4 linked regions of the Homo sapiens genome follow. The protein of the gene in region 3 purifies or fractionates together with the protein of the main gene of each other region. This does not show direct contact. Each region holds a gene or a part of one and is shown on either strand. Other genes may lie near its edges.

Region 1 (6,693 bases), on a different chromosome or scaffold from region 3:
ACTGCTTCTTTTAGTTTAAACTTGATGAATATTTTTAATTTCTAATGAAATTTCATTTCTAATGAAATTAAAAATATTGCCTATCTAGGGCCTATCTATGCCTATCTAGGGCATAAGCATGTAACTTCCAATCATTCCTTCCAAAAATGCACTTGATAAAAAAAAATAGGAGCATAAATACCATCCAAGCATTATGGTGCTCTTTCAGAAAAATGAGACCTACCTTCCCTGTAGCTCTATATTTTTCATTTAGCAAAGAATAAAGCAGCTCTTTCAGAAATTTTTGCATAGAGTAATTGGAATTTAAATTTAATAACACCCTCACCTAACTGGTCTTAAAATGAAATTGTTTTTAGCATATAAATCTCTCACCTGAAGCATTGTACTATGGCAATTTTATCATCCATCTCTCTGCAAGTGTTTATTGAGTGCCTGTTCATTCTCGGCATGTCAGCTTTGTGAAGCAGGTAGAAATTGAACAGTCAACCTTAGTTTGACTAATAACTAAGCCAGGGAAATTAGAAAAATCCAGGAACTGAGTAAATGGAAGCTAGGTAAATGTTACTGACTGCCTAACCAGCTCACCAGCCAATCAGGCTCTCTCCAGCTCTGTACTGTGGACAGCTCTGTCCTTACGTATAATTGTTAAACCCTACATTTCTTGCTGTCAAAAAACATGCCCTGATGGCACTAAGTTCTTTCTTCTCTTATGGTAATCCTGCCATAATTGCTAAATGACCTGTGTTCAGATTACCTGGTACCATACAAAATTGTTCTCTGGCAACAATATTATAGTATATTGTATATGACTATAGTCGTGATTTTTAGCTCGTCTTTTCCTCTTACCAAAAATTTAAAGCACATGTTGCATAAATCTTATGAGTACTTAATATTTAATATGGAGACCAACAGGCCTTTTGTTTCCTCTCACATGCTATTTTTCTTTTTCAGTGTGAATGACATCACAGCTGTTGGACCGGCACATTTCTATGCCACAAATGACCACTACTTCTCTGATCCTTTCTTAAAGTATTTAGAAACATACTTGAACTTACACTGGGCAAATGTTGTTTACTACAGTCCAAATGAAGTTAAAGTGGTAGCAGAAGGATTTGATTCAGCAAATGGGATCAATATTTCACCTGATGATAAGTATGGCCCCTTATAGAATATCTTCATTTTTCTTCAGTTGTGGTGCTGGCCAAATTCTTTACTTTGCTTTCTTTGTCAATGTGAAAATAGTTTTCTTGACATTTATGGTATATTATACATATAATATATAGATACACTATATATATAATTATATATGTTTTGTATATATATTTACATATACTTAGTCACATGTATTTATATGCAAATACAATACCATATTTAAGTAAACTATATAATACAGTAATATATATGTATTTATATATAATATATAAAGTTTGGAATACATCATTGTCAAATTTAATTTTATAAATATAAATTTTAAAGTGTGATCATACTGATGCATACATATTGAAGTATCAGGTATTTCCTTTTAAATAAATGTATTATTTTTATTGGCTATACATTATTCCATTATAAGGATGATCTTAAACTAATTTAACCAATTCTCTATTGATGGATATGTGTATAGGGGTGGGGAGTTCTACATAAAAAATATTTTATACTTCTTATTTACCATGGAATTTTAAACAAGTATTTTTTTTAAAGAAAAAGTCCCTAGGAGAGTGTTTTTTTTTTGTTTTGTTTTTTGGAGATGGAGTCTCACTCCGTCGCCCAGGCTGGAGTGCAATGGCATGATCTCAGCTCACCTCAACCTCCGCCTCCTGGGTTCAAGTGATTCTCCTGCCTCAGCCTCCCAAGTAGCTGGGATTATAGGCATGCGCCACCATGCTTGGCTAATTTTGTATTTTTAGTAGAGATGAGGTTTCTCCATGTTGGTCAGGCTAGTCTTGAACCTCCAACCTCAGGTGATCCGCCCACCTCAGCCTCCCGAAGTGCTGGGATTACAGGCATATGCCACCACACCTGGCTCTAAGAGAGTATTATAACATAATGGTTAAACTTGCAGATTTTGGACTCATACAGGCCTGGGTTCAAATCCCACCCAGGGCACTGGCTAAATGGTTCTATGAGCTACTTTTCTGTAGAACAGACCCCTAGAAATAGAACTATTTGCTCAAACAGTGTGATTCTTTTAAATGTTAACTTTAATAGATATTGCCAAATTGTCCTCCAGAATTATCTCATTATTTTTATATGCACAACCACAACCTATAAGAGAAGATATTAAATTCTTGATAGCTTTCTTATCTACTGCCTCAGCACACTGAAAAATTTAAACTACTACAAATACAACATAAAATAAATTTGGCACTCCTTGACAACTAAATGCCCTTATTTTTGTAATCCAATTTCTCCTCCTTTCTTGTTGACTATAGAAAAAGAATGTAGAATCATTTAATTTAAATTGTCTCTAACTGACCTGATCCAACCTCTGCAGCCAAATCTGTTTTTCACTCTTATATTTCCATTATGAGAGTCAAACTTTCCAATCACCCAAGCTAACAAAAAAATAACAATAATGAAAAGGGAGAATCAGCTTTTACTCCTCTTTCACCATTCCTATCCAGCCTGTAGGCAGGTCCTGTTGGTTCTACCTGTGCCTCCTTCCTCTACCCCCAAACTCCTTTCCCTTTGAGTGAGACCTGCCTAATTTAGGTTGTCATCCTCTCTGACTAGCATATGAGACTTTCTTCCAATTTGTTTTCTGTCTACTTGGATTTTTTTCACTCTTGCCAATTTTGTCTGTCTATCTCTATTAGCCTTGAAGGGCTCCCCAAAGAGGGAACTCTGTCTTCCTCACCTTTGACTCCTTATGCCAGTACAGTGCCAGGCACAAAGCAAATGCTCAGGAATTGTGGAACAGAACTGACCATTTGTTGCCACTTTATTATTCTAAGATTTCAGTGGAATCCAATTGCTTATCAAATCAAGGCAGGGTAAAGGGTTGGACTTTGTTTAACAGGCCACCTCCAACCTCCCTTTTCTACTATTTCCATGCTTTCTATGCTTTAGACAAAGAACTCATTGTTTTAAACATTCCTTCCTCTTCTTGCTCCTGTGATTCTGCTCTTGTGCTTGCTTCTGCCTGGGAAGTGCCTCCTCCGTCCTCATCTCAAATCTCATCTCTCTTTACACAGCCACTGCAGATGCCCCTTCCTTGGTGAGCCTTTCTGTGTCCTCGGAAGTTAGCTATTTCTAGACCTGAACTATTTCTCATGCTTATTAGGTGTTTAATGTGTACAAACCAGTGAGATTTGTTCCAACACACTATAAACTTTCAAGGAGAGAGGCTGTGTCTTCTTCATGTTTATATCTGCTGCAACACTGAGTTCATGGCTTTTCACACATAATTGCTCAACAGAGCAGGTGCCATGGAAAGTCAATTCAATGAGTAAAATTACCTCAAAATAGTCTGTTAATTCACTCACCTTTGAAGTAGACAGATTATTCTGCATTGATACTTATCTCTTACTCTTAAAATTCGCTATGTATTAATAAATATTTTATTGAATATTAAGGAATGATCACTATTTTAATAAGATGTTCTTTACCATATATTTCTATATGTACATGATAATTAGAAGTATCAAATTATATTGTGGAATGTAAAAGCTTTTCTTCTGAAGCCAAGCATTTGTTTTATTGTCATTTCAGTGGCAAATATGGACTTCATATTCAAAATGATGTTCTATATTATTTTTCCTTACAAGCTTTTTGAAAAACAATTTAATAATTCCATGATTGTTGTAGCACCACTGAATTGATTCTGAAAGCTTACTTTTTAAATAAAAATTGACCTTTATCAAGCATTCCTTGAGGGCCCATGATTGATTAACTTCTTGGCAGGTTATTAAGACTTATTCTTTCACACTGTATTAATGAAGCTTTATATTGGCATGGAGCTCTAACCACTGTGTCCTTTCTGCAAAGGTATATCTATGTTGCTGACATATTGGCTCATGAAATTCATGTTTTGGAAAAACACACTAATATGAATTTAACTCAGTTGAAGGTAAAATATTTATTTTTACATATAGACAGTAATCTATTATGCTTTGCAATGACATAGTTTTTCTATAAGAGTACCACACGTAGAACAAAATATGGATGCCAGTGTAGCTATTCTGGGTTTTTAAATACTCCCTACAACTAGAGAAAGCTCCTGTTTCCAGCGATCTCAAGAACTGACCATGATTACATGCAGCAGCAGGTTGAGAGTGATATTCATCAGATTTAGGGCCCATTCCATGAAGTATTGATGGCAGTGGAAGAATTCCAATAAGAATTTTCACAATTGAAAATACTAATAGATGAATTCTCAAATGAAGGTTTATGCACAGTGTCAGTTCTTTCAATAATACATGAAGGTAGAAATTGGGTTCCACACCATTATTATTTTCTTCCTACTCAACAACACATATTTTAGGTTGATTAAGAATTTCCTATCTTGCTTTGATTGAGTTCCTTGAGCTAACTGATCATTGTGCATCTTTTAAAGGAAAAGGAGTTCAGTTTTTAAGATAGATTTTTACAGAGACCGATTATCACCCTAACTTTCTTAATTTCAGGGAAGAAGAAAAGTGGCTCCAAACCAGTTTTTAATACATTCCTTTTAAGCAATATTGGTGTTAGAAGGTGGAAGCAGGGCGATGTGTAATTTCCTCACATGCATAGAGGCAGGAAGGTTACCTCTAAATTATTTAATCAAGTTTCTCATGTCATTTAGATTTTGACAATTTCTCATTTGGAAGGTACTTGAGCTGGATACACTGGTGGATAATTTATCTATTGATCCTTCCTCGGGGGACATCTGGGTAGGCTGTCATCCTAATGGCCAGAAGCTCTTCGTGTATGACCCGAACAATCCTCCCTCGTCAGAGGTTTTTATATTTTCAGTTTTTTAAACTTAATTATTCAAGTCCTTTTGAACTAATAATACAATAAATTGTCACAGGGATGATTTGTTTAGTTATTTTAAAGCAATAATATAATAAGCTTATGTCGTGGTTTTGTAATTGCGTTAAGCCAATAATTGGCAGAATGTTACATTGTTCAAATACTTTAAGAAAGGTAATCTTTTGATGTATTAAATTATGGTGGAAACTAGTCAAAAGGCATTTTTATAAAGACATGTGCCCTTCTTGGGTGGTATACTGGCAATTTTTAAAATATCTGATTTATTGTCAGCTCACCACATGATGTGATATTTGTTCATGTTGAAGTAGTGTGAAAGTAGGCACATTAGTATGAAAGTATTTCTATTAAAGCTGAATTGCTATAATAACACTAAATCCTGTGTTGGCATGGAATAACTAGATGGTTTTAAGAAAGTACTTTCTTTGAAGATTGGAGAAAGTACTTTAATTTAAACATTAAAAAGATTGGTAACTGCTATTTTCAACAGCATGTCCCCTTAATCAGTGTGTCATTGTGGAAAACAGGGCTTATTGATGATTGAGTGACATGCATGTACGGTGGTCTTATATTCATACTTTGTATCCCCTGAATAGGTTCTCCGCATCCAGAACATTCTATCTGAGAAGCCTACAGTGACTACAGTTTATGCCAACAATGGGTCTGTTCTCCAAGGAAGTTCTGTAGCCTCAGTGTATGATGGGAAGCTGCTCATAGGCACTTTATACCACAGAGCCTTGTATTGTGAACTCTAAATTGTACTTTTGGCATGAAAGTGCGATAACTTAACAATTAATTTTCTATGAATTGCTAATTCTGAGGGAATTTAACCAGCAACATTGACCCAGAAATGTATGGCATGTGTAGTTAATTTTATTCCAGTAAGGAACGGCCCTTTTAGTTCTTAGAGCACTTTTAACAAAAAAGGAAAATGAACAGGTTCTTTAAAATGCCAAGCAAGGGACAGAAAAGAAAGCTGCTTTCGAATAAAGTGAATACATTTTGCACAAAGTAAGCCTCACCTTTGCCTTCCAACTGCCAGAACATGGATTCCACTGAAATAGAGTGAATTATATTTCCTTAAAATGTGAGTGACCTCACTTCTGGCACTGTGACTACTATGGCTGTTTAGAACTACTGATAACGTATTTTGATGTTTTGTACTTACATCTTTGTTTACCATTAAAAAGTTGGAGTTATATTAAAGACTAACTAAAATCCCAGTTTTGTCTGTGTTTAATTCTGAAGGCATATGGCTAGGAGAAATGGGAAAGCAGCTGCTTCCTTATGGAGTTTGGATAGGCAAGCATGGCCATATTAATTTCTCTTGTGGAAAGCTGAAAGTGAATGGACTCTTAATTTGAAACAACAACAACAAAAATCAATGAAATATTGCAACTCAAATTCCCAGTTCCTAAGGAGGTTTCCATCAGCTCTCTTCCTTAATGGGAGTCCACTTTAGAGACAAAGAGGAAATAAGGGTTGGGACAGGAAGGTCTTGCCACCTCCTCATTGAACAGAACTGTGAACTAAAGCCAGGAGAATGAAGTCAGTCGTCCGTGACCACATGGTTAAGCAGCAGCAATGCTAGGATCAGGGCCGCGTGCCCAGCTCACAGAGGGAGAGTTTTTCTGCTCACTGTACCTCCTATAAAATCATCATAAGCCCTAGAGAGAGACTTTCATGTGTTTCTTTCCATTGTAATTTATCAAACCACTTTACTTC
Region 2 (7,026 bases), on a different chromosome or scaffold from region 3:
GTACCTGCAGTTGTGTGCTGGTAAGTGTTGGACCCCCAGATCTCTATGGGTGTGGGAGGGAAGCCCTGATCTGTAATGTTTGCCAATGCCTGTGGTATAAATACTCCCATGATGCGCAAGTCAAATGATGTCAACTGTCTTGCAACATTCTCCAAAACTTACCAGTTGGCTCCAACACACCTGTAAGTCTGCATCACTTCTCTGTTCAGTCCTGAAAAACCTTCAATGTTTCTGCCTTGCACAAAGGCTAAGAGCCAAATGTTTCAGCACAGACCAGGGTGGTGGCAGTGGAGGTGATGGGAAGTAGTTGGATTCTGGATATATTTTGAAGGTAGAGCCAATGAGATTTGTTGATGGTTTGGATGTGGGATAGAATCATGGATTACTTCAAGATTTTTGGCTTGAGCAACTGGAATGATGGAATTGTAATTTACTGAAGTGTGAAGGAACAGGTTTAGGGGAGGAAATTAGGTTGGTTTTGGATATTGAAGGTTGAGGTGCCTTTAGACATCCTAGTGGTGATGTCCAGTTGACAGTTGGCTCTGTGGTTCTGGAATTCAGGGACAAGGTCTGGGATAGAGATATAAGTACTCATTGTATTTCTGCCACACTGGCCTTTTTCTGTCCTTCGAACCAGTGGGTCTCATTGTTCCCTCTGCCTGGTGCAGTCTCCTGCAGATCTTTAAATGATTGGCCCCATCCCCTCATTCAGGTTATATTCAAGTGACAACTCCCAGGGAACCTAACATAAGCAAACACACACACACACACACACACACACACGGAACCTAACATAAGCAAACACACACACACACATACACACACACACACACACACACACACACACACACACACACACCCTATTGCTCCTGTCCTGGTAAGCATCCACAGTGTTTTGCATTCTTCAAAGCATGTATCATTACTTGAAATTATTGTATTTGTTTAATTCTGTCTTCCCTCACTAAGATAAGCTCTGGGAAGGCAGGGATGATGTCTATCTTGTTTTCTTATGTATCCACAGCTCCTGGAACAGTGCTTCACTCAAATAGGTACCTAGAAATTATTCATTGAATGAATGAAATGACTGACAAGCCAGTTCTAATATCACCTTTCTTGATTAACCCAGAAAATTAGTTAGTTGTGTTCCTTCACCACTTAATAATACAAGCATCCACACACGTATATAATCCGTTATAGCACTTCATTGTATTCTAGTTATTCGTTTGGGTGTTTGTATCTTCAGTAGGCCAAGAACTGAGGTCAAGACTGCATAGCTTCCTCATATCTGGTGAACATATGCCCTGTGCCAAGCACTAATAGAAACTAGGAACAAAAAGGTGGATGAGACCTAGTCCTGCTCTCAGGAGATATGTTAAATGAACAGCCACAACAAGCAGGATAAATGCCATGAGCAGTGAAGTGCAGCCCGCAGGGGAGCACACAGTCGGGACAGAGTCCAGGGTGAAAAGGAGGCCTCTTGGGAAAAGTGACCTTTGAACTGACATTGGAGGATGAGGAGTTAGACTAGCAGATGGAGAGGATGGTGGGGGGAATGAGAGGGCATTCCAAATGGAAGGTGCGCTAAGTGCAAAAGGCCTGGAGACAAGAGGCAATGGCCTATCCCAGGAACTGACAGATACTCACAGGGACTGAGGGGATAATCATGGGAAGAGGAGTGTAGGAGATGAGTCTGGGTGGTTGGTAGGGGACAGGTCATGAAGGGCTCTGTAGCTATGATGAGGAATTTAGACAATCCAAGAGACAATGGTTAGGGGAGGCAATGAGGTATTTGAAGCAGAATGATGACATATTCAGGTTTGGAATTGAAGGCCCACTCTAGCTGGAGTATAGCAAAGATTGAGAGCTCACTTAGGCAGCTGTGGTAATCCAGGTGTGAAATAAAAGTGGCCTGGGGATGAAGAAATGTGAATATTTAGAGACAGATTTAGGGGGTAAAATCAACAGAGTAAGAAGGAGTCAAGAATGATTTCCAGGCTTTTGGCTTGTGCAGTTAGATAGAGGGTGATTCGTGTTCCTGAGATAGGTATAATGAGAAGAGGAGTAGGTATGGTGAAGGAAAATGGTGAGTTTGGCTTTGAATATGATTTTAGTGGCTGCTAGGCATTCAAGTAGAGATTTCCAAGGGGGCTGTGGATCTCTGGGTCTGGAGTTCAGCAGAGAGATCTGAATTGAACCCAGAGGTGGGGAGTTGTCCTTGTATCAGCCATAACTGAAGCCAAGGTATGGATGAAATCCCCCAAAGAAAACAGTATCTAATGAGAAAAGTGGGATGGAACTTCAAGGAAGCCATCACTAAGAGCATGGGAAGAAGAGGGTTTTGCCAGAAGAAAGGGCCAGAGAGGAGGCTATGGTGACATGGAAACGAGGAAGGACACATTTGAAGGGGAAATTGGTCCATGGTGTTGGCTGTGCCTGAACCTTCAAGGAAGAGGAGGATTAAAAACTGCTTATAGGCAATCATAGTCATTATTATTTTAATAAAGGCAAAACATGTACATGGAAATAAAAAATTCAGACAGTAGAGAAGAGAGCCAGATGGAAAGTATAAATTCTCTACTTCCAGGCACCCCTGACCAGTCCTTTGGTTGGACTTAATGATAGAGATCATTGGTGATCTTTGCTGGGGCAATTTGAGCAGAGTTGTGAAGATGAGGTGTTGAGAAAAGTGGTGAAAAAGTGGAACTCTGCTGGGCGCGGTGGCTCATGCCTATAATCCCAGCACTTTGGGAGGCCAAGGCAGGCAAATCACTTGAGGTCAGGAGTTCAAGAACAGCCTGGCCAATATGGTGAAACCCCATGTCTACTAAAAATACAAAATTAGCCGGGTGTGGTGGTGGGCGCCTGTAATCCCAGCTACTCGGGAGGCTGAGGCAGGAGAATTGCTTGAACCCGGGAGGCGGAGGTCGCAGTGAGCTGATATCGCACCATTGCACTCCAGCCTGGGTGACAGAGTGAGACTGTCTCAAAAAAGAAAAAAAAGAAAAGAAAAAAAGAAAAAGAAACTGGAAATCTTTGAAGAAGTTTGGATATGAAAGGGAGATAAAAGGTAAGCATTAGTGAGAGGTGCTGGGGGGTTGAGAGAGGGGGCATTCTGTGGTTGGTGTGTGTTTTAAGATGGAACAGACTAGAACATGTTGAAGACTTGGGTGAATGTTAGTGGAGAGGAGGAGAGGGAAGTCAAGGTACAGTAGAGAGAATGTGAAAAGAATGTGGACAGGGATGGGATGCAGAACCCTGGGAGAGCAATTTGCCTCAAAAGGAAGGTCTAGGGTCGTAACTGGAATGGTGTATTTGCTAGTGAGTCTGGAGGTTTTGGTGGCAGAAAGTTGAGGCCATTCCTGTCTGGTTGCTTCTAGTTTTCAGTTCTTATGCCACTTGCCTAGGTGATCAGGTAAAGCCCCTACTCCAGGGCAGGCACTGTGATGTGTTGCTGGCCTGATGCCTCCTCAATAGGAACAGCGTGCATGTTGTTTAAAGTGCAGTCTCTGTGGGGCTAGGGAACAACTGGTTAGCTATATGGAATTAAATAAATTCCTATTTATTGGTGTGTGTTTTAAGATGCAACAGACTAGAACATGTTGAAGGCTGTTGGGTGGATGTTAGCGGAAAGGAGGAGAGGGAGATCAAGGTACAGTAGAAAAAGTGAGAAAAAAATGCGGACAGGGCTGGGATGCAGAACCCTGGGAGAGCAATTTGCCTCTAAAGGAAGGTCTAGGGTAGTAGACCAACTCAATTCTTATAAAGTAAGATTCTAGAGATATCAAAGATTTTTTTAAGTTATAAAACATACAATTATACAAAAAAAAATGTCATAGAGACCCATAAATTCACTGCCAAGTTAAACAGATGTTAATGTTTTGCCTGATTTGTTTCAGATCTCTGGTTTAAAAAAAGGAATAAAATGCTTGTGCTAATAGCTAAAGCCCACCTTCATATTTAGTCACTCTCCCTCCCGCCAGAAACAACCACAACCCTCACTATGTTTGTTTTGTATTTTTATTACTGATATATATATTACAGACAATAGATAGTGTTTTGTGTTTTAAAATTATACATCAGGAGTATCAACTTGTTTTTTTCACTGATCAGTGTGTTTGCCATTCAATGGCATGACATGGAACTCTGGTTGAGTGATTTTTTTTTTTTTTTTTTTTTTTTTTTTTTTGAGACAGAGTCTCGCTCTGTCACCCAGGCTGGAATACAGTAGTGCAATCTAGGCTCACTGCAACCTCGGCCTCCTGGGTTCAAGCGATTCTGCTGCCTCAGCCTCCTGAGTAGCTGGGACTATAGGTGCCCACCACCACGCCCAGTTAATTTTTATATTTTTAGTAGGGAAGGGGTTTCACCATGTTGGCCAGGCTGGTCTTGAACTCCTGACCTCAAGTGATCCACCCACCTTGGCCTCCCAAAGTGCTGGGATTACAGGTGTGAGCCACCGTGCCTGGCCTGGTTGAGTGATTTTAATGTCTGTATTGTGTTTCATTGCTTACTTACCCATTCCTCTGTTGATAAACAGTTGGGTTTCAACTCTAATGCCCTTATACACAGTGCTGCAATGTAGGTCTTATTGTGAGTGTACAAGAATTTCTCCAGGGAAATACCTAGAAAGTAGAATCACTGGGTTACAGGAGTGTATGTTATTGGTGAATTCAATTTTTTGTTTGTTTTGTTTTGTTTTGTTTTTTGAGATAGAGTTTCACTCTTGTTGCCCAGGCTGGAGTGCAATGGCGTGATCTTGGCTCACTGCAACCTCCGCCTCCCAGGATCAAGCGATTGTCCTGCCTCAGCCTCCTGAGTAGCTGGGACTACAGGCGCCTGCCACCATGCCCAGCTAATTTTTGTATTTTTAGTGGAGACGGGGTTTCACCATGTTGGCCAGGCTGGTCTTGAACTCCTTACATTGTGATCCGTCCACCTTGGCCTCCCAAAGTGCTGGGATTACAGGTGTGAGCCACCATGCCTGGCCCTCAATTTTTTTAATGATTGAAAAAATATATAACCTAAAAGTTATCATTCTAACAGTCTTTAAGTGTACAATTCAGTGGAAACATTCAGTGTTCTATCACCATCACTACTATTTCCAAAACTTTTTTCATCATCCCAAACAAAAATAACTCCTATTTCTCCCTCTCCCAGACTCTGTTCTACTTTCTGTCTGTATGAGTTTCCTGTTCTAGGTACTTCACATGAGTGAAATCATACAAGATTTGTCCTTTTGTGTCTGGCTTATTTCACTTAGCATGGTGTTTTCAAGGTTCATCCATGTTGTAGCATATATCAGAATTTTATTTCTTTTTATGGCTTAATCATGTTCCATTGTCTGTATATACATTTTGTTTACCTATTTATCAATGGATGGACAAATAGGTTTTCATCTTTTGGTTACTGTGAATAATGCTGCGATGAACATTGGTGTACAAGTATCTGTTTGAGTCCTGTTTTCAATTCTTTTGGGTCTGTACCTAGGAGTAGAATGTGCCTTATGGTAATTCTAGGTTTAGTTTTTTGAGGAACTGCCAAACTGTTTTCCATAGCAGTTGCATCATTTTACATTCCTAGTAGCAGTGCACAGGGTTCCAGTTTCTCCACACTACCTCCATCACTTATTTTCCTTTGTTTTCTTTTTCTTTTTTTTCAGTAATAGCCATCTTAATGGGTGTGAAGTAGTATCTCATAGTGGTTTTTGATTTGCATTTACCTAGTGATTAATGATGTTGAACATCTTTTCATATGCTTGGTGACCATTTGTATATCTTTTTTGGAGAAATGTCTATTCAAATCCTCTGCCCATTTTTGAATTGAGTTGGTTTTTGTTGGTGAGTTGTGAGAGTTCTTTATGTAATAAATTCTGAATATTAATCCCTTATCAGATCTATGATTTGTAAGTATTTTCTCCCATCCTGTGGTTGCCTTTTTACTATCTTTTGTTTTGCTTTGTTTTTTGGAGACAGAGTTTCACTCTTGTTGCCCAGGCTGGAGTGTAATGGCGCGATCTCAGCTCACTGCAACCTCCGCCTCCCAGGTTCAAGCGATTCTCCTGCATCAGCAGTGTCCTTTGGTGCACAAAAGCTTTTAATTTTGATTTCCAAGAGTTTTATAGTTTTAGCTCTTAAATTTAGGTCTTTGATTCATTTGAGGTTAATTTTTTTTTCTTAGAGATGGGGGTCTCGTTATGTTGCCCAGGCTAGCCTCAAACTCCTGGGCTCAGGTAAGCTTCCTACTTCAGCTTCTGAGTAGGTGGGATTATAGGGGTGTGCCATTGTGCCCAGCTGCTGATTTTGAGTTAATTTTTGTATGTGGTGTAATTTTTGCATATGGTCCAACTTCATTGTTTTGAATATGGATATCCAGTTTTCCTGGCATCGTTTGTTGAAAAGACTGTCCTTTCCCCATGGAATATTCTTGGTATCCTTACCAAAAATCAGTTGACCATATATGTGAGGGTTTATTTCTGGCCTTTCTATACTATTCCATTGGTAAATATGTCTGTCTTTTTGCCAGTATCACACTGTTTTGATTATAGTAGCTTTGTATTAAGATTTAAGTCAGGAAATGTGAGTCCTCTAACTTTGTTCTTTTTTTAATATTGTTATGGATATTTGGGATCCCTGGACATTCCATGTGAATTTTAAGATTTTTTTTTTTCTATAAAAAACACCATTGGATGCCTTTCATTTCTTTTTCATTCCTAATCACTCTAAAACTTCCAGTATTATGTTGAATAGAAATGAAAAGAATGGCTGTCCTTGTCTTGTTCCTAATCTTAAGGGAGAAGCTTTCAATGTTTCACCATTGAGTATGACGTTAACTGTGGGTTTTTCTTATATGGACTTTATCAATAACTGAAGACATTCCCTCCTATTCCTAGTTGATTGTTTTTTTACATGAAAAGGTTATTGAATTTATCAAGTCCATTTTCTGCATCAGTTGAGATGATCATTTGGGTTTTTTCCCCTTCATTCTATTAATGTATATGACATTGATTTACCTATGTTGAACCATCCT
Region 3 (7,026 bases):
CGAGATAGAGCTCGTCTAGTGCCGGGGGAGTTGCTGGGCTTCCTGGGAGGGGCTTGAGATGTGTGTGCGCGCACACACACACACACACACACACACACACAGTTACTTGGGTGGGACTTACAGTGATTTTGACCTGGGTCATTTCTACTGTGTGTGTCTCCAGACCCAAGTCTCTGGGGAAGGGGTGGCTCAACTCAGAGGAGGGTGGGCAATGCTCTAGTGCCCAGCTGGGCACACTCACCACAATTGCTGTCCAGGCTGACCGTAAACCAAGGCTGACTCCTGGTGCCGTCCCTGCTCCTGGGGGAACGGGGGGTCGTGGGAAGCCCTCATGTTGCTGAGAAGCAGGAGCCGTGCTTTTTTCCAGGTTTCACTTGAAAAAGAAGATGAGGGTCTGGCGGGACTCCTTCTTGGTGGAGAGAGGGTGAGTGCCGGGTCCTGGGAGGGACACCCCTGCCCACCTCCCTCCCTCTGCCCAGGAAGCTTCTGTAGCCCCACCGCATCATGCTATTCAGGAGCTGCCCATGGCTCTGAAGTTGGTCCAAAGGCCCCTAAACACAAAGCCCATTCACTGCTCCTATAGACACAGAATTGGGGTCTGAGGTCACGTGTACGCTTTTGGCATGCTTTGTCCAGCCTCTACAATGTCTTCAATTTATTTAATTTATTGCCAACTCATGCAATTTGGGAAGTTTCTTATAAAATTCCAATGTCTTAAGTTTCCTAAACATCAGAAGACCCGGGCAGGTGGCCCTGCGCCCTCCACTGTGAGGAAAAGCCGGAGCCGAGGGGGCACCCCTCTAGGTGGGCACACATGCCTCCGGGGCTCCTCCAGAGCTGAGAGGCCGGCCCCGCGGCTCCTGCTCTCTGCCCCATAGCAAGCTGCTACACAAGAGAGACAATGACAAGGTGGACGCCCAGGAGGAGAACTTTCTGCCCAAGTACCAGCGTGTGAAGGACCTGTGTCAGCGTGCTGAGTACCAGACGGCGTGTGAGCAGCTGGGACAGGTAAGAAGGCTCCCTTCCCTCCCAACGGCTCCCCCTCCTGACTGCAGCCGGCCCTGACCTGCGAGGCTCTGAGAGCCGCTGAGCCAGCAGGGCCAGGGCCTCCCAACGGGTAGTCCTTTGCTGCCGTGTGGTGCCCAAGATGCTGTTTGGTGGTGCAGGATGATGCTCACAATAAGTGATTCATTTCTCAGCAGCCTTTGGACCCTGACCGTGTCAGAGGCCAAGTGTCCCGTGGGTGTGTGTATGCCCTTAGCGCCTCTCTAGCCCTTGCCGATCTCTCTTGCACGAAGGCCCCAGCAGGAGTTAAATTATTTTATTTTCACCATATTCACTTTGACAGTATCCTCTTTGTGACTGGTTTTCCTTTTATAGGAGTAATAAGACATGGCTTTTTAAAATAAATATAGGTAAGGTTTTAAAAAGTGAATTGATTGCAAGAGAAATATTAAGGAAATTATGGCCAGGAACAGTCCGTGGCTCATGCCTGAGGTCCCAGCTACTCCAGAGCTGAGGCGGGAGGATGGCTTGAGCCCACGTGTTGGAGGCTGCAGTGAGCTATGATTGCGCCACTGCACTCCAGCTTGGGTGACAGAATAAGACCCTGTCTCTAAAAACATAAGAAAAAAGAAAATTATCTGGGAAGTATCAGAGATAGCCAGAAACTGACATGTTTGGGAAAGCCTGAAGGAGGCTTTTCTGAGGCTGGAAAGCCAGGGCAGGCTTGGAGAGGAGGGTCGGGGGCGGGGCAGGGCAGGGAGGGGAGTGGGATGGAAACTCTGCCTTGGCTGGCCCAAGGGGTGCCGGAGGTGTGTCCCTGCCCTGCCTGTCAAAGGCTGGGACTTTGAGCTGGGGCTGGAGCTGTGTGCCTGTTTCACCTATGAGAAAAAGCAAAACCAGGGCCCTGGTATTGAAGGCCAAGGCCTGAAGTGGATGCGTTTCTGATGGACTGCATTTGAATGACTCCATCTTAACACTGCACACAGAATTAGTACAGGCCCATACAGGCCTGACTGTGCCTCCCCACCCAGTGTGTGTTTGTAAACCCACAGACCCCTCTTAGTCACACAATTAACCCGTATCTGCCACCGGGCAGGAGCTGTGGATTTCATCCCTCCGTTGTACAGCATGAATGCGTCCCCCCGCTTGCCAGGCACTGTCCTAGGCGCAGGGCCACAGCCTCGAACATGCTCAACAGAAGCTCCTGCCCTCCCAGAGCTGATGTTCTGGAGAGAGTTCAGCCTTGACTTTGTACCGAGATCCCAGAAGTGGTTCTGATTTTAGTTCTGGGCTAAAAGGAGTGAAATGAGGAGGCCAGGAAGTCTTTGCCCCTCGACGAGGGAACGTTGTCAAGTCCCCCACTGGTTCTTTCTGATGTCTCCCCTGACCCAGATCAGGGCTTGGGCAGCCAGAATGACCTCTTTGCTGGGGCCAAGAAAGAGGAGGTATCAGCATTTTCCAAACAATCAGAGCACACCACTGAAGCCAAAGGAAGAGAGTGCTGAGGGCGGAGTTTGGGGCACTTAGCCTAGGCCAGCTGGGAGGCAGCAACCCACGGCCCCCGACCCAGCCCCGGAGCTTTGGGGACCTCAGGCTCAGACGTCTGCCCCCCATCCCAGGCAACGGCCCTGCTCACAAGCCGGTACTCCCCGAGTGCCGTTGCCATGTCCCTGCTTGTGCCGTGCCTTCTGGAATGCCCTGCCCAGTGTAGAAGCTGTACCCTGTGGCCCGAGGACGTCTCTTAGGGGCCTCACACCCAGCCATAGCATTGTCTTGGGTACCTTGTCCGTGCTACCCCACGTGGTAGATGTTTTTTTGTCATTTGCTGAACAAACGTGCCCAGGAACCGAGCTCATGTGCATCTGTCTGTCTCCCGGTGACACGGGGACATCCTAAGGGCAGGGCCCGGCTAGAATTCATGTCATCATTGCCAAAGCCCAGACCAGGGCCCAGGCCGGGCAGGAGTAAATGTGCCCTGGGCACCTCGTAATGATGATCATCACGGGCAACACGTGAGTGTAAGCTCTACCTCCAGCCACCCTATCTGGCAGGTATGTTCTGTACACGGGGAAACTGAGGCCCAGGGCTCAGGCAAACTGCCCACAGCCTCACAGCTTCAAGTGGTGGAGGCAGGATTTGAACCCAGGTAGTTGGGCTGCGGGACCTTCGTTCTCAGCAGCTGTAGGGACCCCAAGTCAAGCCGACACTGGCCCAGCCCTGTGGGGCTCAGGCGCCGCCCCCGCCAGGACAGCCTCGGGACGGGCCATGTGGACACGGCTTCTACATGAGTAGTTGCAGGGGCAGCAAACCCTTTCCGCACAAGATCAGACAGTAAATAGTTTGGGCTTTGCAGGCCACATATTTGTTTTTGTTCTTGCTTTTTACAACTCTGAAAACGTACAATGTAAAAACCGTCCTTGGTTTGCAGGCCATACAAAAACAGGCTGTGGGCTGGAGTTGACTAGCAAGAGGGCTGCTGTTTGCCGACCCCTCAAGTCGTGCCCCAGCTGAGTTTGTTGGGTTGGAGCGGGGAGCAGGCAGTGGGGAAGGAGAATTCCAGGCAGAGAGAGCTAAGTGGACAGGAGGCTGCTCGCCAGCGCACACAGCTCAGGGCTTCACGCAGAACTCAGAGCCCTGGCTTTTCTTGAAAAATCAGACCTGGGCTTCTGGGCCTGTGCTCCCCTCTGGCGACAGTCAGATGGGTATAGCCGGTCACAGTGCCCACTTTAGCCTCCCCAGGTCCCCCAGGCGCTTCTGGGCTGGCCTCATTCAGGGCCATGCCTGCTGGCCCATCAGTCTACTTCTGCACTAAGGAATCCAGGTTGCTGGAAGGGCCTGCATGCATTGAAGGGGATGGGAGGGTGGCAGGGCGCTGTGAATGCAATTAGATTCAGCCTCCAGGTGAGAACAGATGGGCGGGACAGGGGCAAGATGAGCAGGTGAAAGGCACCAGGGCCTTCAACGGCAGCGGGCGGGGGCAGACGGTGCAGCAGAGGGTTGGGGGGGATGGTGGCACCAGACTCCACACTTTTCCTTACAGCTCTTGCACCTCCCAGTTGTGTGACCCAGGACACATCTCTCTACCTCCGTGTGCCTCATCTTGAATCGGCACAGTAATGACAGCACCTGCCTCGTAGGGTAGCGTGAGGTGTAGTAAGCAAGTTAATATATTAACACACAGTGCTTGGCACATGCTAAGTGCTGGAGAGACACAGGGAACAGATCTGACCCATGGCCTGGAAAGGTCACTTTGGCACAGAATAGGCCCTAAAGAGTCACTGGGTCAATGGGCTGGAGCAGCTGTGGACAGAAGGGAAGAGAATCCAGTTTACAGGTGGTTGCAGAATCCCGTGAGGGGATCCAGGAGGCTGGAACTGGGGAAGAGCAGAAGGATCAACACGAGAGATTTGGACAGTGATTCTATCTACATTCAGCGTCTGACCACAGGCCTGGAGTTGAGTGCACACGTGGAGCCTCTGCACACACTGCACTGATTGAGTCTGGGAAGGTGGTCAGGGGAGACCTCCTTGCGCTGGAGCAGACGGGAAGGAAGAGAAGCCTCCAGCAGCAGGAAGGGCTGGAGAAAAGGCATTCTAGGCAGAAGGAACAGTGAGCGCCAAGTCCCTGGGGCAGCAGCCCACAGGGGATACTGGAGAGAGGGCTGAGGGAGAGGAGGACCGATGGGTAGGCCAGGGCCAGATTGCAGAGGATGTTCAAAGACTAGTATCAGGAGCTTGGGTCTTGTCTTAAAGACAGTGGGAGCCATTGAAGGGTTTTAAGTAGGAGAGTAATATGATCCAACTTGCCCTTTAAAAAGATTCCTCTAGCTGCCATGTGGGTGGATTTTAGGAGCAGACAGAAGCAGGTAACCGTGAGAGTGGTGGCTGTCGGAGGCATCTCGCTGGGGGATGATGGTAGCTCTGCCCAAGGTTCAAGCAGTGGCAGTGGAGAGAAGCGGCATTGGAGATAGCAGAGGTGGGGCTCGGTAACAGCTGGATGCAAGCAGGGAGAGGGATGTCTCCAGGGTGGATGGGGGTGGCAGGGGAGAGGCGGGTTTAGGGGAGCAGATGAGCAGCTGGCCGAGGCCCTGGCATGTCTTTCAGAAGTGGCAGTGTGTGGAGGACGCCACGGGGAAGCTGAAGCTGCATAAGTGCAAGGGCCCCATGCGGCTGGGCGGCAGCAGAGCCCTCTCCAACCTCGTGCCCAAGTACTACGGGCAGGGCAGCGAGGCCTGCACCTGTGACAGCGGGGACTACAAGCTCAGCCTGGCCGGACGCCGGAAAAAACTCTTCAAGAAGAGTAAGTGTCACAACCTGGCTGAGTGGGACAGGAGGAGAGAGACCATGCCTGGGGGGCCCCATTCATTCACTCCGACAGTTCCACAGAGACTGTCACTTTGCCAGGTGGTGATCTAGGGGCTGGGGACACAGCCACATCTCCTCACGAGCCACCCATTCTAGTGGGGAGCAGTAGTAATAAACAGATAAGGCCAGGCGCAATGGCTCACGCCTGTAATCCCAGTACTTTGGGAGTCCGAGGCAGGCAGATCACCTGAGGTCAGGAGCTCCAGACCAGCCTGGCCAACATGGTAAAACCCCGTCTAAAAATACAACAATTAGCCAGATGTGGTGGCTCACGCTTGTAATCCCAGCTACTTGGGAGGCTGAGGCATGAGAATCGCTTGAACCCAGGAGGCAGAGGCTGCAGTGACCCGAGATTGTGCCACTGCACTCCAGCCTGGGCAACAGAGCGAGATCCATCTCAAAAAAAAGGAAGAAACACACATACAAGGTTCTGTATTGATTGGCTGGTGAAAATGCTAGGACCAGAGGTTCACAGGAACCCAGCTCTGTGCTTCCCCTAGGAGCCATGTTTCAGCGTTCAATTAGTCAGTGTTTGTGGTGAGTTTATAGAACTACCCTGGGCTGGGCGCGGTGGCTCACACCTGTAATCCCAGCACTTTGAGAGGCCGAGGTGGACAGATCACTTGAGGTCAGGAGTTCAAGACCAGCCTGGCCAACATGGTGAAACCCCATCTCTACTAAAAATACAAAAAATTAGTTGGGCGTGTGGTGTGGCAGCAGAGTCGCTTGAACCCGGGAGCAGAGGTTGCAGATAGCTGAGATCACGCCATTGTGCTCCAGCCTGGGCGACAGAGTGAGACTCGGTCTCAAAAAAAATAAAAAATAAACTACCCTGAAGAACAAAAATAGACTATAGTTGAGTGGGGAAAAGCCTCACTCAGCTGAAGAAGTGTCTACACCTTCACACCTCATTCTCGGCAAGGGCCGAGGAGAGGACAGTCAGACAGAAGCCAGGGAGCAGGCGAAGTGGAGAGAGGGACTCTTCTAGACCCAGCCAGAAGGCTCAGCCGCCACCCTGGGCCATCGCTTCACCATTCTGAGGCTCAGCTCCCACCATCAAACAGGAAGAATGGTCCCTGCATGACTTTAAAACAAGAATGAGCCTGTGCCCTGAAAATGTGTGGAGGCGTCGGGGTCCGCCGGCTAGAAGTGTGCCCTCCAAGGCTGGGCAGCTTCCCACGTAGCCCATTTCTCTGGCCTAAGGACAGCCAAAGCCTAATGAGAGATTTTAGGTGTTGTTTTTAAAAAAAATTATGGTGAAATTCCCATAAAATTTATCATCTTAACCATTTTTAAGTATCCAGTAGTGTCAACTATATTCCCACTAGTACGCAACCTATCTGCTAAATGAACTCTTCATCTTGCAAAACTACAACTGTCCCCATTCAACGTTATCTCCCCATTCTCCCACCCCGCTCCCACCCCCACCCCGTTCTCCCACCCCGCTCTCCCACCCTGCTGTCACCCCATTCTCCCACCCGTTCTCAGCAACCACTCTTCTTCTCTATGAGCTTGACTGCTTTAGGGGCCTCATGTAAGTGGAATTGTACAGTATTTGTCCTTCTGTGGCTGGCTTATTTCTCTTCGCATAATGTTCTCCGGGTTCATCCACATGGTAGCCTGTGTTGGAATCTCCTTCCTGATCGGGCACAGTGGC
Region 4 (7,427 bases), on a different chromosome or scaffold from region 3:
ACTTTGAGTGGCAGAATCAGGTTTGCTAATTGCAGGATATTTACTTGGAAAACCTCAGCATGGTTCCTGCAAGATCTCTTCCAAGGTCTTTTAGCCATAAGAAGGGAGAAAAGATGATTGCCCAATCTATAGCCTGAGTTGGGGTGTCAAAGTCCAGATGGCTGTTTAGGCAGGAGTAGCCTGTAGGGTGAAAGTCCAGGACACTCCCTATCCAGTCCCAGTTCCCCACCTGCTGGCCCTGGACGTTTAGGTAGTTCTGAAACCTCTTTGGCCCCGTGAATACCAGCTGTATCTCCTTCCCAGTGCTAGGGCCACCAGCTGCCAATGCTCAACTAAAACACGGAGGATTAGTGTGAAAAGAGACGCTGGGTACACTTGGCCTGAACCTCAGACTAGTCTAAGTCACTGAAAAAATCTTCCTGGGCTTGCATTAGCAACAGTCTTAGGCAAGGCTCCTGATATGAAAAAATACCTCATTCATTCATTCAATTAATTCATGAGGACCCAAATAACCACTGGTAGATGAATGGGACTGGAGGAGAGCTGAGGAAACCTGCTTTCAAACGCACAACACTCTTCAAAAACAAAAATCTGATCAAGAACCTACCTCCATTAGTAAACCAATAAAGGCCTCACATTCAACTGTTAGGCTTATTAGGAATCTCTTTTAGCTCAGGCACACTCACCTTTGTAAACTCATTTACTCCCTACCACCAAGAGAGGGTGGATAAACAGCTTTTTTTTTTTTCCAGCTAGGAAATAGGTGCAGAGAAATTAAATGACTTGCACAAGGTCACACAGCGAGTAAACCCAAGTCTGTTGGACTCCAGAGCCACTTCTTTCTCTGCTACGTGGAGCGGGGACAGTTTCCCCTGTGAACTCAGGTCCTCAGTTTTGGGGAGGGCCGAATAGGCCACTGAAGTCATACCCGCTTCCCTGCGGTCCACAGGGAGGATCGGCCGCCTCCCGGCTGCACCGAGTGGCAGTCGCCGCCCGTCGGCGCGGCTCGCTCTAGCCGCGGTGCCAAGCCGCGCGCTCCCTCCCGGGCTGGGCGGGGTGTTCTCCGCCCAGAATCTTTCTTCGTGGAGTACCCAGGATCCCGCGGAGCTGCGCGCCGGGGTCAGACTGTTCCTCGCAAAGTGCTCAGCACGCCAAGGTGCCAAGGGCACCAAGGAGCCGGCTTTGGGTAGCTCCGGGTGGAGAAAGTCGGGGACACAAACCCGGGAAAGGGGGAAAAGCGCTCCAAGAAGGGTGGCCCCTGGCTTTGGTCTCCGGCGTGACCCTGGCGCCCGCTGACGCTGCCCCAGACTTTCTCCTGTGTTGCTCCCACCGCTTCCGTCCAAGGCTCTCTGGGGAACTGGGAAGGCGAGGAGGAAAGTACAGCAGCTGGGAGCCCATTTGCCCCACCAGGTGCCCCAGTGACCCGCTCATCCCTGCTTAGCACCAGAGCTGACTTATGAAGGGGCGAGGGTGAGAGGACACGCTCCCTGGCGGGAGCTAAGGTGAGGCCAGACAGGCTCGCTTCCCTTCCTGGTTACCTGTCCCCCACCCGGAGAGCGGCTGCTGCTGCACGGGGAAACGATGTCTGGGGAGATGACCCTGCTGAGGAGCGAGGTGGCGGGCGTGGGGACAGAGTCAGGCGTCTTCAGATCGGTGCTGGTCGAACTGCCTGTCCCGCCTAGGAGGCTCTCACCTGCTTGGACACCTCCTCCCTGAGCTCCCGAAACCCCACTCTCAGCCGAGCGGCGTAGGCGCGACATCCCTGGGACGTGGAGACTCCGAGCTGCCGGAGCCAAGGTTCCCCGGCCTCCAGGGAGCAGGCCTCGGGCATCGGGGCTTCTCTTTCCATCTTCATCCAATTCCCCTTGCAGCTCGGAGCTTACCCCAAGCTCTTTGAGGACCCTGTCCCCACTGGGAACCTGTTCTGGAAACCCAAGATACTCTATCTCGTCTGGGACCACGAGAGAATAATTTGGGGTTCTTTCCAAGGACCCTTTCGAGGAGCTTTAGGCTGTCCCTGCCCCTCCTTCCCGCACCCCGGGACCGGTTAGGGAGAAGCCAAAGTCCCTTCTCCTGAAGGGACCTATCCAGGGAAGCCGGAGTGGCTGTCCCGCCCAGGGCCAGTCTTTGAGAATCGGGTACCCTCTCCTTCAGGGACTGAGCGGGGAAAGCTGGAGTGGCTGCCTTGCCCGGGACCCGACCAAGAGAAGCCTGGGTCCCCTCCAGACCGATTTGGAGAAAGGCAGTTTTACTTCCCTCCTGCAGACGGCCGGGGGAGAAGCGAGCCTCCCTTGCAGTCAGGCCGGCGTGACGTGTGGCTCAGTTACATCCTCCGCCTGGGAACCGCGCGTCGGAAACGCGGGGTGCCTCTCCTGGCTGCGGCCCCCGCGACGGCCCGGGACGCTGGATTATGATCCGCGCCGAGCTCGCGACTGCAAGGGCCGAGGGCAGCCAGGACAGAAGGGCCCTTGCCGGGCTGCACCCGCGCCACGCGCCCGGAGACCGCGCGCCCTCCTCCGGCACCGCGAGGTCGGCGCCCTCCGGGGACCGGGTCCCGCTCTCCTAATGCCACGCCGGGCGGCCACTTACCGCGGTAGCTGGTTCCCGGCTTGTAGAAGTCGGGGTCGCCCTCCACGCGGAGGCTGAACTCGGTGTAGCCCTCGCGCCGCGTGCCCTGGGCGCGCAGGATACGGCTGCAGTAGCCCTCTGACTTGGGCACTTTGTCCAGGGTCTCGTCGGAGAAGGCCAGCGCCGCGGCCAGGGGCAGCGCCAGGGCCAGCAGTGCCGGAGTCCGGCTCAGCTTCAGGGGCGCCGGGGACAGCCTCATCTTCGCGGCCCCCAACTTTGTGCCGCGGCCGCAGGCCTTCGCCACGCGACTCCTGCCCGAAGTGGTCCCGACGAAGGCGCGACCTGGCGGAGGCGCGGCGGAGAGAGGGAGCTCGGAGCTGGCGTCCGCGACTCGGAGACCGTGCCCGCCTCGGCTTGGCGGCCGCGGAGCTGCGCTGAGCTGAGCTGAGCTGAGCCAAGCGAACGAGAGCAGCGCGAGGAGGGGAGGGCCGCGGCGAAGGAGCGGGAGGAGGGAGGGCTGATTTTGCCCAGATCCCCCAGCGCAGCGCTGTTTTGTTTCCTCCGAACTGGCGATTAGCGGCGCGGCCGTGTTTATTTTGCGACGTTGGATTCCCAGGGTCTGACGAAGAAACCGTGGCATACCGGACCCTGTGGGCTCTGTCCCATCGCCTAGGAGGCTGCTGCTCCAACCCCCAGCTACACTCCGGACCCTCTGGAGGACGGCGCTCAGAGGAGGGAAAGCCTGAGAAATAACTTTTGTTGCACACCTGCTCTGTGCCTAGCAATATGCTTGGCGGCTTACTTACTGTATCGACTCGCCTTCATGTTCCCTACTCCCAATAAAGATTACATTACTTTCGCTCACTTTATAGATGAGCAAACTGTGACTTGCGACCAGTTACAGCAGGGTTAGATGCGGCGACTCCGGGCCCATTGCTCTTCCCAAGGCCATAGTGGAACATGTCAGACTGGAGGCTGAGAAAGGAGAAACGACTTAGCTACAGCGCTTAGGGCCCACGATACTTTTGGAGATCTATGAAAATGTTTTCTGTAAAAATCAGAAGAAAAAATTTATGTCAAACAAAATGTTTTACTATATAATGTTAATATATTTGTATTTATACCTCCACAGTCATAAAATATGCTTGACTTGGAGGAAAGAGCCAGCAAAGGCAAAAGTGCCTAAGGCTCAGGAAGGTCCTCCTACAGCCCAGGAAAGGAGTTTCCAAAGATTCAATGAAGAGCCTGTGTTTTCTTGGCTTACATTTTAGTTCAGATTCTCACTCCCCAGGGACAGATGTTCAGAGAGGTGCTGAGCCTGAGGGCCTGAAGGGAAAAGACCTGGGGCAAGAATCTCTCCCAGTGTCTCTCTGGGAAGAGACCCGAATCAAACCTCAGTCCTGCCACTCACCCATTGTGAAGCTTGGGCTAGTTATCGCACTCTCCAAGCTTGTTTCCTGCTCTGGAGAACAAGGAAGTGGGGGTGGGTGCCAGTACATCCTTCTTAGAGGTAGTGGGGTGATATGCTAGAAGTAAATGATATGACCCATATAAAACACTCTAGTTGGTCTCTAGTGGCGCCTGCTCCCTCACCCGCTTGGGGATACCATAAGCCCCCTGCCTCTCAGTGCACACAAACATCCCTCCCCAGGTGCCCTCAGAAGCTTTGGTTTCCTCGTCTTCTCTTTGCCCAGGGCCTTCGACACACCTCAAGTGCCTACAATTAGCAAGCAATCTCCTTTGCTTTCCAGGTCAGGGTTTTCTCTTTCATAATGCTACAAACAGGCCCAGGGCGCTAGGTGCATGGGAGATCTCCATTCCTCCCTGCCTGCCCACTTACTCCTTAGTGCTTGTGCTGGAATTCCCACTGCCACTATTAACTGGACGCCTTCTCTCAGAGGTCACCTGAAAGTAACCCCTTGCTGAAGCCAATTATGCTCTTCTCTCATCCCTAGCCCTTCTTGACCCTAGCAGCACCTGATCCAGCTGATCGGCCCTCCTTTTTGAGGTGAGGCTCAGATCCATGTCTGAGTGCTGAGGGAATTGTCTGCATCTTCACTCGACTGGCTCAGAGCTCATGCTGCACTCCAAGTTGCACGGTCCCATTCATCCAGCAAACTTTCATTAAGTGTAGATTTGGAGCTAGACTCTGTGCTGACCGGTAGGTAGAAGACGGAACAAAAATTCATCCATCCATCCATCCATGCATCCTTCTATCCATCCATTCATTCATGACAAAGACCCTCCACGTGCTCAGTGCTTGGATACAAAACACAGATATGTTACTTGCCTTTGAGGATTTTACAGGCCTGTGGCAAAGGCAAATATTAAATACATAATTATATGAATCTTTTAAAATTATAATTGTGATGTATGCTACAAACTAAAATAAGTGGTTCTTGAAAGTGTACCTGATCTTATCTCAGAGGGCAGGAAACTACAGAAATGAATAAATTGTGACCCCTGTCTTCACAAAGCTTATTTTATGTCTGAAAGCTCAAATCTGTGCTCTTGAACCTCTATTCATCTACAAAAGGTTCAAATCTAAGTTGGAGATGGGTGGGCATGAAGTAGGCAGGAATGCAATATTTAACTTTTTATTGGATATTGACAGGAAAACTATGGGAAGTAGGCAGTCCCAATTCACCTCCGCACTCCCATTGTTCAGATTAGGAGCCTATGAAATTACCTGCTGAGGTAATGTTCCATGGCTATTAAGGGAAAGAGCCAGGATTTAAAACAGGCATCCCCAACACCAAATGAGGTACTTTCCAGTACACAGTGTTCGCCCTATCATCTGGGCTATGACGGCAGGCTCTAACCAGCTCACCAAGCTCCAATCCCACTACATGAGCTAGGTTTTCCTAAACCAGCTTGGCTGTCACTCAGACCTCTGCTGTCTTCTCCACTCATCCGATCCATCACCACATCAAGTTTCACGCTCTTCTCCACCACTACCCCTGTCTGTGTTGACATCCTCTCTCATCTTCCTAACTGGGTTGCCCTTGTCTACTTGTGCTCTCCTTCCATCTGTCTTCTGCACTGAAGCCCAAGTGATCTTTTTAAAAATGCAGATTTGAATGTCAATCCTGAGGTTAACATTTTTTCTTGGTGGTTTTTCAGGGCTCTCAGAATAAAGACAGAATCTTCAGCCAGGCCTCCAAGGCTCTGCTTGATCTGCTTCTCCAGCCATGCAGCTCTTCTCTCATGGGCTTTGCCTGTGCTGTTCTCTCTGCCTGGAATCCTATCATGCTCTTTGGTCTCTCCTAGCCACCACTCTCCATTGGCCAACTCCTATGTACTCTTCAGATCTCAGTGCAAAACTGCCTCCCCAAAGAAGGCCTTTCTGATTTCCTAGAATAGATCCAGCCCCCAAAACTCTGCTGAAGCTCATGAGTACCTTTTCTTTTAATCTCCTCCTCCTCCTCCTCCTTCTTCTTCCTTCTTCCTCCTCCCTCTCCTCCTCCTCCTTCTTCTTTCTCCTTTCTCCTTTCCTCTTTCTTCTTTCTTCTTGAGGCAGGGTCTTCCTATGTTGCTCAGGTTGGTCTCAAACTCTTGGGCTCAAGCAATCTTCCTGCCTCAGCCTCCCAAAGTGTTGGGACTACAGGCATGAGCCACCACACCTGGCTTCTTTTAATATTAAGATTTATAATGACCCATTGATTTATAAGTTTGATGTTTAAAATTTTACATTTGTTCAGTATTTGTCTCCATTCTAAATTCTAAGCTCCAGAAGGGTAGGGGATGTCTATGGGGCTTACCACTGTATTTTCCGTGCACATCGTAGTGCCCGGCCCCTGGTAGGGGTTCCATAAATATTTTTTCTCTGAATAAAAACTTTTTAACAAGCCTACCCTCAGTGCCTTCTGACTCTGCCCAAATTTTAAGACTTGGCCTCTAAGGCCATCCACAATCTGGTCTCACTGTGTCCATCTGGTCATGCCTGGTCATAGATCCCAATCTGAGCTCCCAGCACCACCCAGCTGGGCTCCCCGTGTCCTCCACTTCAGTATTGCCTCAGCACCTTTGCTTACAGCTTTCTCATGGCCTGGAATGCCCTCCCTCCTCCTGCCTGATTAAATTTTCCTCCATAGAATGAGATCCTGCAGTCTCCCCTCCTGTGGACTTCAGTAGAACTGAGGAGGAGAAAAAGTTTCCCATTTTGACTACTGTGGTCCAGTGGATTGTCATGAACTATTTCATGTGTCTATTTCTCATCTCCTAGCAATGAATCCAGTTTACTTTCCCCTTAATTTCCTGTTCAGATGTTTTGTTCTTTTGTAAAATATACTGGACTTCAAGAAATCTCCTTCCAGTTTTTGTAGCCTAAGGCAGAGCTGATGTCAGTTGCTAGGGTGTTGCTAAGGAAAGTCATTTAGCCAGGGCAGATAATTAACTTTATCAGTGTGTGTGGGTAGGTCGCAGAAGAGAAGAGCTGGGGGCTCCAGTTCTCCAAGGCGAGAAAAGTCCTTTGATTCATAGGAGGTAAGATCTCCCTCTTTTTTCTCCCCGCTTTAAGAGAGAAGGGGGAAAAGGATTTTCTAGATTAGTGTTTTTCTGAGTATGGTCATTGAAACATGAGCATCAGATGTTTGCTTCAAAGGCAGATTCCGAAACCTCATCCCAGACCTACTAAATCTGTACTTTGAAGAAAAACTCATACTGAAGTTTAAGGAACCGTCGTCCTAGACCGTAATTCAGACTTGAAGTACATGGGTTCCAGGCTGGCTCTTCTGTTTTCACCATGTGAAGCTGTGCAGTCTTGGAAAGTCACAGGACCTATCTACACGGATTATGTGCAAAATTGGACATAGTAATACCCATCTTGCCTACCTTGTGGGATTTTGAGAAACAAATGG

Evidence for each region.
Region 1: the proteins of SULF2 (region 3) and PON2 purify together in Homo sapiens (affinity purification with mass spectrometry; 3 studies listed by BioGRID and IntAct, with this or other methods). This does not show direct contact.
Region 2: the proteins of SULF2 (region 3) and OS9 purify together in Homo sapiens (affinity purification with mass spectrometry; 2 studies listed by BioGRID and IntAct, with this or other methods). This does not show direct contact.
Region 4: the proteins of SULF2 (region 3) and SPON1 purify together in Homo sapiens (co-immunoprecipitation; 2 studies listed by BioGRID and IntAct, with this or other methods). This does not show direct contact.

What each region holds. Positions count from the first base shown.
Region 1 is NC_000007.14:95,404,360-95,411,052, reverse strand, and holds the end of PON2 (serum paraoxonase/arylesterase 2), read left to right. Parts: intron 1-951; coding exon 952-1,152; intron 1,153-3,984; coding exon 3,985-4,066; intron 4,067-4,805; coding exon 4,806-4,934; intron 4,935-5,564; coding exon 5,565-5,723; 3' UTR 5,724-6,191; downstream 6,192-6,693. UniProt on the Homo sapiens protein: Capable of hydrolyzing lactones and a number of aromatic carboxylic acid esters. Has antioxidant activity. Is not associated with high density lipoprotein.
Region 2 is NC_000012.12:57,697,108-57,704,133, forward strand, and holds part of OS9 (protein OS-9 isoform 1 precursor), read left to right. Parts: intron 1-7,026. UniProt on the Homo sapiens protein: Lectin component of the HRD1 complex, which functions in endoplasmic reticulum (ER) quality control and ER-associated degradation (ERAD).
Region 3 is NC_000020.11:47,670,476-47,677,501, reverse strand, and holds part of SULF2 (extracellular sulfatase Sulf-2 isoform a precursor), read left to right. Parts: intron 1-367; coding exon 368-424; intron 425-878; coding exon 879-1,008; intron 1,009-5,108; coding exon 5,109-5,304; intron 5,305-7,026. UniProt on the Homo sapiens protein: Exhibits arylsulfatase activity and highly specific endoglucosamine-6-sulfatase activity. It can remove sulfate from the C-6 position of glucosamine within specific subregions of intact heparin.
Region 4 is NC_000011.10:13,958,305-13,965,731, reverse strand, and holds the start of SPON1 (spondin-1 precursor), read right to left. Parts: upstream 3,010-7,427; 5' UTR 2,828-3,009; coding exon 2,590-2,827; intron 2,576-2,589; exon of another isoform or gene 687-2,575; intron 1-686. UniProt on the Homo sapiens protein: Cell adhesion protein that promotes the attachment of spinal cord and sensory neuron cells and the outgrowth of neurites in vitro. May contribute to the growth and guidance of axons in both the spinal cord and the PNS.